Linked DNA regions of Homo sapiens. The protein of the gene in region 2 purifies or fractionates together with the protein of the main gene of each other region. This does not show direct contact. Each region holds a gene or a part of one and is shown on either strand. Other genes may lie near its edges.

Region 1 (3,653 bases), on a different chromosome or scaffold from region 2:
TCTGAATTCGGACTATTTGGCTGTAAGTTCTGTTAAGGGCTAGCTCTCTCACTACCTCTCCTCCTGCTCTCACCCTCCCTGACAAAGCCCTCTGCAGACCTGTTCTTTGTTGAGCCTGGAGTCCCAGAGATAAACCTGATGAGCCTCTGCCCTCAGTGAGTGTACAGTCCAATGGAGAAGATGCTCTGGTGGCCAGACTTGTATTGCAGTGTGAGAAGTGCTATAAAGGAGGGGTGCAGAGTGCTCTGAAAGGATCTTGTCCAGGGAACCATTGTGCTTAGGGGCTGTGGATGCAGGGGTAGGGCAGGGAGGTCAGTCATCCTTGAGCTGGGACATTTGAGCTGGGCTCTTGATGGGTGAATAGGAGGAGCTCAACAGATGAAGAAGAAGAGCGGGGATAGAAGGCCTATCTTGGGCAAAGAGGCACATCGCCTGGGTTGCCAGGCTGAGCTGGGCCCCCATGGACTGCAGCAGAAACACAACTTGGAGACCCTGGGTGCCATCTCAGAATGTCCCCTCAGCTGAGCAGACGTAGGGGTGCATGTGCTCACCTCAGGCCTTGGCCTGGCTCAAATCCAAACCTCCTCCTTCACTTTACCTTTGCCCAGAGGTGGGCACAGTCAGTCCTGCCATCCTGCCCATGCTGCCAGCCCAGCCTCCTTCTCTCTCCTAGCAACTTGTGGCTAATCTACCTGTTAAAAATAAATAGGTCATCGACCAGTCCACCCCTGGTAACAGGGCACTGTGGGCTGCAGTGACATCTAGGAGCAGGTCTGAGTCTGCACAGATGAGAGCCAGAATCCCAACTGTGATAGATTTTGCCACAGGAGGCGGGGGTCAGGGCTCTTGGTTGATTTGCTCAACCATGCTGGAAAGCAGGGCCAGCGTGGGGTGGTAGAGTGGCCCAGCAGGGTCAGTAAAAGCTGGAGGCTTTCTCCGAGGCAGCCTTACAGTATCTCCTCGCTGCTCTGTCCTGTTTTCTCCTGAGACTCCGCTCTCACATGCCTGCAGGAGCCAGTCAGTGGGTGAAGTGGGCCTAGTGGGGACCAGGTGAACTGGGGAGAGGGCAGCCACAACCTGATTCTAATCAGGTATTGTCACCAGGGATTGTAGGCCCCGTTGTACTCAAATATTCTGTTTTCAAGATAATCTGGAAGTCAGTGTTTTGTTTTTGTTTTTGTTTTTGTTTTTTTTTGAGTCTCACTCTGTCACCCAGGCTGGAGTGCTGTGGCACGATCTTGGCTCACTGCAACCTCTGCCTCCTGGGTTCAAGTGATTCTCCTGCCTCAGCCTCCCAAGTAGCTGGGACTACAGGTGTGCACCACCATACCTGGCTAATTTTCGTATTTTTAGTAGAGATGGGGTTTCCCCCTGTTGGCCAGGCTGGTCTCTAATTTCTGACCTTAAGTGATCTGGCGACCTTGGCCTCCCAAAGTGCTGGGATTGCAGGCGTGAGCTGCTGCGCCCAGCCTGGAAATCAGTATTTTTTTTTTTTTTTTTTTTTGAGATGGATACTCGCACTGTTACCCAGGCTGGAGTGCAGTGGCACGATCTCAGCTCACTGCAACCTTTGCCTCCCGGGTTCAAGTGATTCACCTGCCTCAGCCTTCCCAGTAGCTAGGATTACAGGTGTCTGCCACCGCGCTCGGCTAATTTTTGTATTTTTAATAGAGACAGGGTTTCACCATATTGGCCAGGCTGATCTAGAACTTTTGACCTCAGGTGATCCACCCGCCTCAGCCTCCTAAAGTGCTGGGATTACAGGCGTGAGCCGCCATGCCAGGCCAAAGTCAGTATTTTTGTGTCAACTTTCCCAATGTTCAAATGTTGACAAGTAATTTAAATTTTTGAAAACATGTTTGCAAGCTGGACACAGCTGAGGGCTACTAGTTTCAGACCTCTGCTCCTACCCTCTTAATTTTGGCGGGAATGGTGCCCAATTCCCGCACCATTCCTCGACTTGGAAAGTTGGCCCCAGCCTCAACTTTCCGTGGCTTCCAGCTTAGACTCCCACTGCAGTTTCAAATGCCTGGGACAGCATCAGGCTTTTGGTGTCAGGCCCCATGAATCCCTCACCTCCGGGTGGGTAGCCCTTGCCTCTGGTGCCCACCCTAGGTCAGTGAGCCAGTCAGCTATTGGCGCTGGTCTCCAAAATATGCCCATGCCCATCAGCATGGCGTGGGGCAGTGGTTTTCAAAGTGTGGTCCCTGACCCTCAGTGTCCTCCAGGAATTTGTTAGAAATGTGGATTCCTGGGCCCCAACTCAGACCTGCTGATTCAGAAACTCTGGGAATGGGGACTAGTATTATTTAACAAGCGCTGCTGGTGATTCTGATGCTGGCTATAGCTGGAGATCCACTGCTCTAAGGGCAGGGACTGAGCCGGTTCTCTGAGATGGGAGTGGACAGGGCTCGCCCTCCTCCATCTGTTTGGCAGACAGGCCTCTAGCTCTGACTTGGACACAAGGTGTCTGTTCAACCTTCTGGTATCCCTTGGCTGGGCGCGGTGGCTCACGCCTGTAATCCTAGCATTTTGGGAGGCCGAGGTGGGCGGATCACGAGGTCAGGAGATCAAGACCATCCTGGCTAACACAGTGAAACCCCACCTCTACTAAAAATACAAAAAATTAGCCGGGCGTGGTGGCCGGCACCTGTAGTCCCAGCTACTCGGGAGGCTGAGGCAGGAGAATGGTGTGAACCCAGGAGATGGAGCTTGCAGTGAGCTGAGATCGTGCCACTGCACTCCAGCCTGGGCAACAGAGCAAGACTCCATCTCAAAAAACAAAACAAAACAAAACAACCTTCTGGCATCACTTTCTCAGCTGTTGTGAGATGTGGATGATGTCCTGTGCCATTATAATAATGGCAGTGCCATTTACTGAGCACACACCATGTGCACTTAAAACACCATGAGGCAGGTACTAGTCTCATCCCTGTTTTCAGACAGGTAAACTAAGGCTTGGAGAGGTGAAATGACTTGCCCAAGTTCACACTCATAAATGGCTGAGGCGGGGGCCACCGATCCTGAAACATTATGCATTTAGCCAGCATGCTGAGCCGTTGCTAGTCTGCCACTATGTGGCAGTTGGTGTCACACATATGTGGGTCTCCTTGTAGCCCAACCATGCCCACTGCCCAAATAATCCACCATCATGTGGCACTTAACGACGGGGAAACATTCTGAGAAGTGCATCCTTAGGCGATTTTGTCCTTGTGTGAACCTCATAGAGTGTGCCTACACAACCTAGATGGTAGAGCCTACTACACTCCCAGGCTATATGGTGTGGCCTGTTGCTCCTAGGCTACAAACCTGTATTGAGTACTGTAGGCAGTTGTAACAGAGTGGTATTTGTGTGTCTAAACATAGAAAAGGTACAGTAAAAATAAGGTAGAAAAGATTAAAATGGCATGCCTGTATAGGGCAGCTCCATTAAAATCTTTTTTTTTTTTTTTTTTGGAGACGGAGTCTCTCTCTGTCGCCCAGGCTGGAGTACAGTGGCATGATCTTGGCTCACTGCAAGCTCCGCCTCCCGGGTTCACGCCATTCTCCTGCTTCAGCCTCCCAAGTAGCTGGGACTACAGGCGCCCGCCACCACACCTGGCTAATTTTTTGTATTTTGTTTAGTAGAGACTGGGTTTCACCATGTTAGCCAG
Region 2 (3,653 bases):
GAGGTGAATGACAACAAAGATGTTCAGAGAAACTTGAAAAATAAGCTACGGTGTAGGGTAAGTTGTATTAAATGATGAAAATTAATATGTAACTGTATGGGTAAACCAAATCATTTGTATCTTATAATCTTTTTTTTGGTAGCTACGGATAATATTATAAATGGAATAATCACTAAAATTCTAAATATAATGTTTTCTAGTAAGAACATTTTATTTTTTTTTTAATAGAGACAGATTCTCACTCTATTGCCTAGGCTGGACTGCAAGTGGGGCCATTATAGCTCACTGAAGCCTCAACTTCCTGGGCTCAAATGACCCTCTCGTCTCAGCCTCCCGAGTAGCTGGGACTACAGGTGCACATCACCACATCCAGGTAATTATTTTACTTTTTGAATCATGATATGTAGCAACCAATCTGGGAATTATTTATTCATAAAAGATAACATTTTCCTGCTAACTCCAACCTCAGAAAAAATGTATTATGCCTGACTCAAATATGTCATTATTTTTATGAGAAAAAGAGTCATATTGAAGTAATTATGTCTATATGTAATAATTATCATTATTTGAGATAATTTGCATTGGGGAGAAAAGCAGGCAATCAGAAATTACATATTCAAGGCTGGGCGCAGTGGCTCACGCCTGTAATCCCAGCACTTTGGGAGGCAGAGGCGAGTGAATCACCTGAGGTCAGAGTTCAAGACCAGCCTGACCAACAAGGAGAAACCCCATCTCTACTAAAACAAAACAAAACAAAACAAAACAAAAAAAGCCACAAAATTAGCCGGGCATGGTGGCACATGCCTGTAATTCCAGTTACTCGGGAGGCTGAGGCAGGAGAATTGCTTGAACCTGGGAGGCAGAGGTTGTAGTAAGCCGAGATTGTGCCACTGCACGCCAGCCTGGGCGACAAGAACGAGACTCAGTCTCAAAAAAAAAAAAAAAGAAAGAAAGAAAGAAATTACATATTCAGGTTCTAGCAAATGCAGTTCTCTAATAAACACTAAATAAATCATAATACAAGTTACAGTTAAACCTAATTGTTTTACTATATAGGATGTATCTTTTTTGTACCTATATTTTATCTTCCTTTGCTTCTCTGGCCTCTATTGGGAGGCAGCACGGTAGTGAACACCTCGGGGATCTTTCTGGTTACGTAAACCTGAGTTTTAATTTTGGTTCATACTACCTTTTAACTTTGGGTAGTCTGCTGAGCTTGTTTTTTGTTTTCACTCATCTGTCATATCAAGCTAGTAATAATTCTGCCATGGTTTTGGTTTTCATATTGAAAGGCATTACATAAGCAAAATGCATAACATATAAATATTAGTTCCCTTTCCACTATGCATCCAATCTCCCTATTAAATTAAGCCTAAAAATAATAATTTTTGTTTTATTAAAAGCCTTCCACATTCTACATATGAAAGGGATTTTTTAAAGGTGTTTTAGATAAAAAATGTTTCAACCAACTGACCAAGAATATCTCTTCATATTTATGTCATCTACATAAAAACTTACATTTATATCATATATCTTTTAGTCTTCTTTTCTATATTCTTGATTGTCATGTTGTACAGCCAGAAAAGAATGAGTATAAATTATCTAGATTTTTTAAAGTGCACATTCAAACATAGAAAATCTAATTATTTTACTTGTTTCTTAGTATTAGGCTGAGGCCAATGAGTCCATGAGCTAAAGGGTTGAAACTTGGCACCAAAAAAGTGATTGTTTATGAGTCCTGTAGATTTATACTGAGAAAACATCATGTCTTCCAATGTGAAATACACTAAAACCTGATTTTTTGTCTCTTAAGGTGTGCTAGGTGAATGCAAAAAGGATCAGGAAAGGGGGTGAGGATAGGTCAGGAAAAGTGCAAACACAATGTTCTATTCATAAATTAGTGATGGCATATTTAAGGTTAAGTAGTAAAAAATATGGGGGGCTCAGTTAACACGAATGAAAAAATAGTTAAAGTAGCCATGAATTATCTGGATACCTTGATTTAATGACACCCTTTCTTCTGTACAATTTCATAATGTGGGAATAGAGATTAGTGGGGATTGTAGTGGTATACCCTGACTTTGCTTCATGATATCTCAAATGTTTAAAACCTATTATTCCCTAGAGAAAGAAATATGTTCATACTAATTGTTGCAGAGGCAGAAGCCAAATATATCTCCTCCTCCATTTATGTGACTATATAGTAATGAAAATCCTAGGTTGATACACTTTTCTCAATCTTGGAAAGATTCTGCTAAAGCAGCAAATCTTCTAACAAGTTCAAGAGGGTGGGGAGAGTGAACAAGTAGAATAATTTATATTACCCTGGAACAATTCTGAATCCTGTAGGTATTTATGTCACTGTTTCAATTGTGTTCTGGTTTAACTGTCAATATTTATGCATAGCAGTTAACGTGTGTGCATATTTGTAACTGTGCAGTGCTACTGCCAGGTGTGACTGTACAAATCATGTGCTTTGAATGTGCAAGTTTTACTTTCTTTTCTAACAATTTAATACAGTGTTAGAAATAAATAACGAATGAAGACAACCAAAGAGCAGCCAGACAAATGTGAACTGGTTTTGACGTGACGAGAAACTCATCAGTAAGTAAATAAACCTCCTCCCTGGAGAAGGCCACTGAAATGCACCCAGGAGGATGTCTCTACTAGAAGGTAATAAAAAATATATATAATGTAGTCTTTGACCTAAAACCTCATGATTATTACTTTGCCATTTATTTCCCCCTGGTATCTGATGTTCATATTAGTTTAATGTGCCTTTTCAGAGAATTCAAGACACTTTTTGGAAAGTAGAATTTTTTTTTGAAAATTTATGATTGGAGAGGTACTACACAATTTAGAGGTTACATTTCTTGACAAATCTGAGTTGAATAAAAAAGAACTAAAAATATAAACATAGCTAATTCAAGAATCAAGATCGGGTGAAACTAAATTAAAAACAGCCATAAAGTCCCACATTTTCCCTAATTTATTTACCTATGATATTGGCACATCTTGTTTTACTTAACATTTGAAAAATACAAATATCTCTTCATATGCAAAAGAGCAAATGTTAAATGAAAAACTGAATTTTATATAGCTTCCTAAATATGAGCCACATGCTTAAGCAGTGAATTAACTTTATGAATCAAATGTTTAATGTTAACTATTACAAAAGCCTGGTATCCAGGTGCAATCTCACCAGAAAAAAATAGCACCTGCCTTTATTACAATAAAAAAAATGGCTAATTCCCTTTGACATCTTAAGAGTGACACTACTTTGTCAAGCACTAAATACTTTTTAAATTAATCATGTTAAACTTCAGATTTATAGATATAAATATTGTATTTATAACTTTAGTCATAATGTACAATTTCTTTCTTGTTTAAAAGTACTTTCTCACTCAAAATGGTATTTATAGTTTAAAAAGAATATGCCTCTGTATTCAGGAGTGATTCAAATTCCCAGATGTTTTCACATAGTTATGAAAATGGGAAAGTGCTGAATTAAACTGGGCTGCAATATTTCAAGTTTTTTGCTATCAGGTTATAAACTATACCTACGATTGCAAGTCATACAGTGCCTCTATTTCTAGAAGGCTTTTAAAGTTTCCTGGCTTAGTTATGTCCAAAGGCAGCAGGAAGTCTCATCA
Region 3 (3,653 bases), on a different chromosome or scaffold from region 2:
GGATAAAATGTAGCATCCTGTTGAGTTTGAGGATCTTGGAACAAAAATTTCACTAGGAGTCTTGTAGCTGTAACAAGCTAACCCAGGAGGGGTATTGCGTTCACTGCAATTTTCACAGCAATCCTAACAATTATTTGGCCTGCATCTCCCAACTTCCTGCTATTGCAAGTAAGTAGCAAAGTATCCAAATGTGGAAATCTGTAAACTAATTGCCATGGTCTGTTGGCCTCCTCAAATGGTAGGTACCATAAGACCAGAGTATTTAGGCAGCCATGAAGACATGAGGCAGCCATGAGGACATGGCCACGTTCTGAGGCATCAGGATAAAGCAAACATATTTTAAACTGAATGCAAGATTCATGTGTCAGGAAAATGAAGTATCACTGCTGTAACCCACCACCAACCAAGAACTCTACCAAGGACTGTGGTGAGAGATGTGGAAGCTATGCTTTCTGCCCTTCTGGAGCTTAATAGCTGATTGCTTCTTTCTGGAGCTTAGCTGGAACGAAGTCAGAAGCCTGAAAAGCTGGGCAGCAAAACAAGATGCCACGCCCACCTTGTGACATGGTACAGTCATCTCTCTTTATTCACTCATGGCCCATTTACTGGGCACTAGCCCTACTATGTAAAAATTAAGACCACACCTGGACAGAGACCATGTAAAAAGAGCCAAGACACAGGGCACGCTTCAGAAGTTCTGAGGAGGATGACACCAGTGTGGGAGGTGGGACATCCAACGGGTCTTTGGAACTGATGGGTGAGTTGTAGTGGGATGAGCATGATTAGGCAGAGGGAAGGGACAAGGGCATAAAGATGGCAATGGGCATGGTGTGTGCAGCCACCTGGCTCTATTCTGTTTCCAGGACAGAGGGTGAGTGTGGGGAGCAGTGGGAGGCCATTGAGACAAAAGGGGCATCGTGGGGCAGTGGAAAGAGCACCCAGCTTGGGCCCAGGACATAGGGCTTCTAGTACTTGTCTTTCTACAGCTGACTCTGTGGGACTTTGAACAAGCCAGGGCCTCTCGATGTCTCAGTATCTTGGTCTGTAAAATGGAGGTAGATCCACAGTCCTTTCCAAATTTAAAACGCTACACGTTTATGTTTACAGGTGACTGTATCCAACCCAACACAATACGCTTACAAGTAATCTACCACAATCGACATTATGTGGCTTGCTTATTTCTTTAATTTGAAGAGCTCCTAATTTAAGCCTTCTGCTAAATATTCAGGTTCAAAATGCTGGCAACTGATATTACCAACAAGAGAAATCATAAAATGGGTAGGGGAATAAGGGGGTTTGGGAAACAGTGATCCTGGATCACTAGAAGGAGGAAATATTCCAAGGATGACAAGAATTACATTCAAGGGCCCAGCTGCAACATGGACTCAAGCTGAAACTACACAATTTCAGTATCAAATATTTGAGAGAAGTTACCGTAAAAACTTTCACACACAGTTCTGTCCAGGCTCATTTGTGACCCTCAGGCTTTCCTATCCTGAATCCAGGAAAAGGGAATGATCTCTATCCACCAACAAAGCAATTTAAATCCAGGAACTGGCAGCAGCCAGAAAAACACAGCCTCGGGTCCAGGACAATCCTTCCCTGTTATCTTAAGCTAAGGAATTTGTAGGCTTAGTAAGAAGAAAAATATCAGAAGCAACATATGTTTTTCATTTAACTATCACCTAGTTTTATAAGGGCAATTTAAAAAGAAAATTATAGAGGTAATTTAAAAAGAAAAGTTTGGTATTTGATAATTCTCAGTGGGCTGAAAAACTCATTTAAGTTGCTTTCATAACATAAAAGGATGATATGTAAGGCTCTGCTGTTCTGAGGCTGCTTCACCCACAGCGGTGGCTATAAATGAAGGTAACTGTGGGCACAAGTCCAAGTACAAAGTGCATGATTTTGAGGTTGAACAGAGTGAATCGGTCCTTCAGGAACCAAGGCAAGAGTGGAGAGGCCCGTCTGCAGTTGAGGATAAGAAGGCCTGGGAATCTAAGGGCAAAGTTAGGCCCAGCCTAGCGCCAAAGGGTGAAAACAGCAATGCGTTCAGAAGCCTGCGGTCTCAGCAGTCAGGCCAGGCCCCAGGGAACAAAAAGCTGGCACCTGCTCAGGAAGCAGAGTTATTTTTCGTGTGGAGGTCACCAGGACCCTGCTTGCCTAATCCTCCACACACTTGGGCCCCCTGACTGGCCAGGTAAAGCGACCTCTGATCAGACTGGGCGGACAGAGCTGAAGGTGGGCCCCAGGGAGAGCTGGGTGTCAGGTGGCCAGATGGGGGCAGGCTCTGGCTCACTGTTGTTATTGTCCTCCAGGGCTCACTCAGACAGTGGCCTCAGAGGTTCACAGTAAATGCCCCCAAACCCACACTAACCAAAGCCTGGTTCCACTTCTCTAGATTTTTACTAAAATAAGCCACACGAGGCCGGAGCATCACTACTGCTCTTTAAATACAAGAAAATGTCCAGGCTTCTGTTTGCTCATCTGCAAAATGAGGGGATTAGGCTAGATAAACAAAGGCTGCTTCCAGGCCCCAAACTGCTGGGTAATTGAGTGTGCTAGAACCAGAGACCATGGTTTGGGCTCTAGACAACCTATCAAGTGGTCACTGCCTCTGCCTCCTCCTGGGGACCACTTCAAGTTCCCTCTTCTCTCTGTCCTCCCAGTGGCTGGCTGCTAAGGCCAACTGAGCCGACCCTCCCACAGCCACAGCCATGCAGGACAGCCAAGGCCAAGAGGAAGGACCTGACTGACACCCAGGAAGACTACATGGTTTGTCCAAGGGCACAGCACTGACAACATGGGCTTCCTGACACTGAGGCCCGATGCCCGGCAGGGTGCCTTTTCAAACATGCCACACACGCTCTTTATTCCTGCTTTGTCCCAGCTTTTGTACCTGCCCTCTGTGCTCCGTCATGGACAGCTCACTTACAAGCTAAGACCTCAGTTCTCAACCAGCAGCATGTGACTGGCCGCACTGAGAAATGAAAGGTCTCATTATCCATCTGACAATCTGGTACCATATAAAATGGCTAGCCTCCTGCCCTCTACTCCTGAAACTCAATTATACCCAGGCTCAAAAAAAGAGACAAGCTTCTCTCAAGCCCTCAGGAACTGAAAGGCCAAAAAAGAAAGCTTCCTTCTCAACAGTCTCTTTTTCCCATAGTTCCAGCAGACTACAAAGCCCTTGGGTTTTAACACTGACCCCCCAAGCCTTGTGATGGGAAGGAGAGCTGTAGCTCATGTTGTCGCCAGGCTCCCATAGGTATGATTTCGTGCTGGAGAGGTGTTTAAGCAAAAGTCTGACATGATCAAAGTGGTACACAAAATTAATCACGTCCCGTCCCAGAATGGATGAGGGTGGCAGAGGCAACATGGAAAAACAGGTCTGGAGTCTGGTTGTCTGGGAAGGCAGGCTCCATTATCAGGCTCACAATTCTGCTGAACACAACTAACAATGAATACATTGAAAAAAAATTTCTGAATGGCTGGGCACGGTGGCTCACACCTGTAATCCCAGCTACTAGGGAGGCTGAGGCACAAGAATTGCTTGAATCCATGAAACAGAGGTTTCAGTGAGCTGAGACTGTGGCACTGCACCCCAGCGTGGGTGACAAAGTGAGACTCTGACTCCAGAAAAAAAAAAGTCT

What was found.
Region 1: the proteins of SLC16A7 (region 2) and CAND2 purify together in Homo sapiens (affinity purification with mass spectrometry; one large-scale study listed by BioGRID and IntAct). This does not show direct contact.
Region 3: the proteins of SLC16A7 (region 2) and TEX2 purify together in Homo sapiens (affinity purification with mass spectrometry; one large-scale study listed by BioGRID and IntAct). This does not show direct contact.

What each region holds. Positions count from the first base shown.
Region 1 is NC_000003.12:12,799,552-12,803,204, forward strand, and holds part of CAND2 (cullin-associated NEDD8-dissociated protein 2), read left to right. Parts: intron 1-3,653.
Region 2 is NC_000012.12:59,780,946-59,784,598, reverse strand, and holds part of SLC16A7 (monocarboxylate transporter 2), read right to left. Parts: 3' UTR 1-3,653. UniProt on the Homo sapiens protein: Proton-coupled monocarboxylate symporter. Catalyzes the rapid transport across the plasma membrane of monocarboxylates such as L-lactate, pyruvate and ketone bodies, acetoacetate, beta-hydroxybutyrate and acetate.
Region 3 is NC_000017.11:64,214,610-64,218,262, forward strand, and holds part of TEX2 (testis-expressed protein 2), read right to left. Parts: intron 1-3,653. UniProt on the Homo sapiens protein: During endoplasmic reticulum (ER) stress or when cellular ceramide levels increase, may induce contacts between the ER and medial-Golgi complex to facilitate non-vesicular transport of ceramides from the ER to the Golgi complex where they are converted to complex sphingolipids, preventing toxic ceramide accumulation.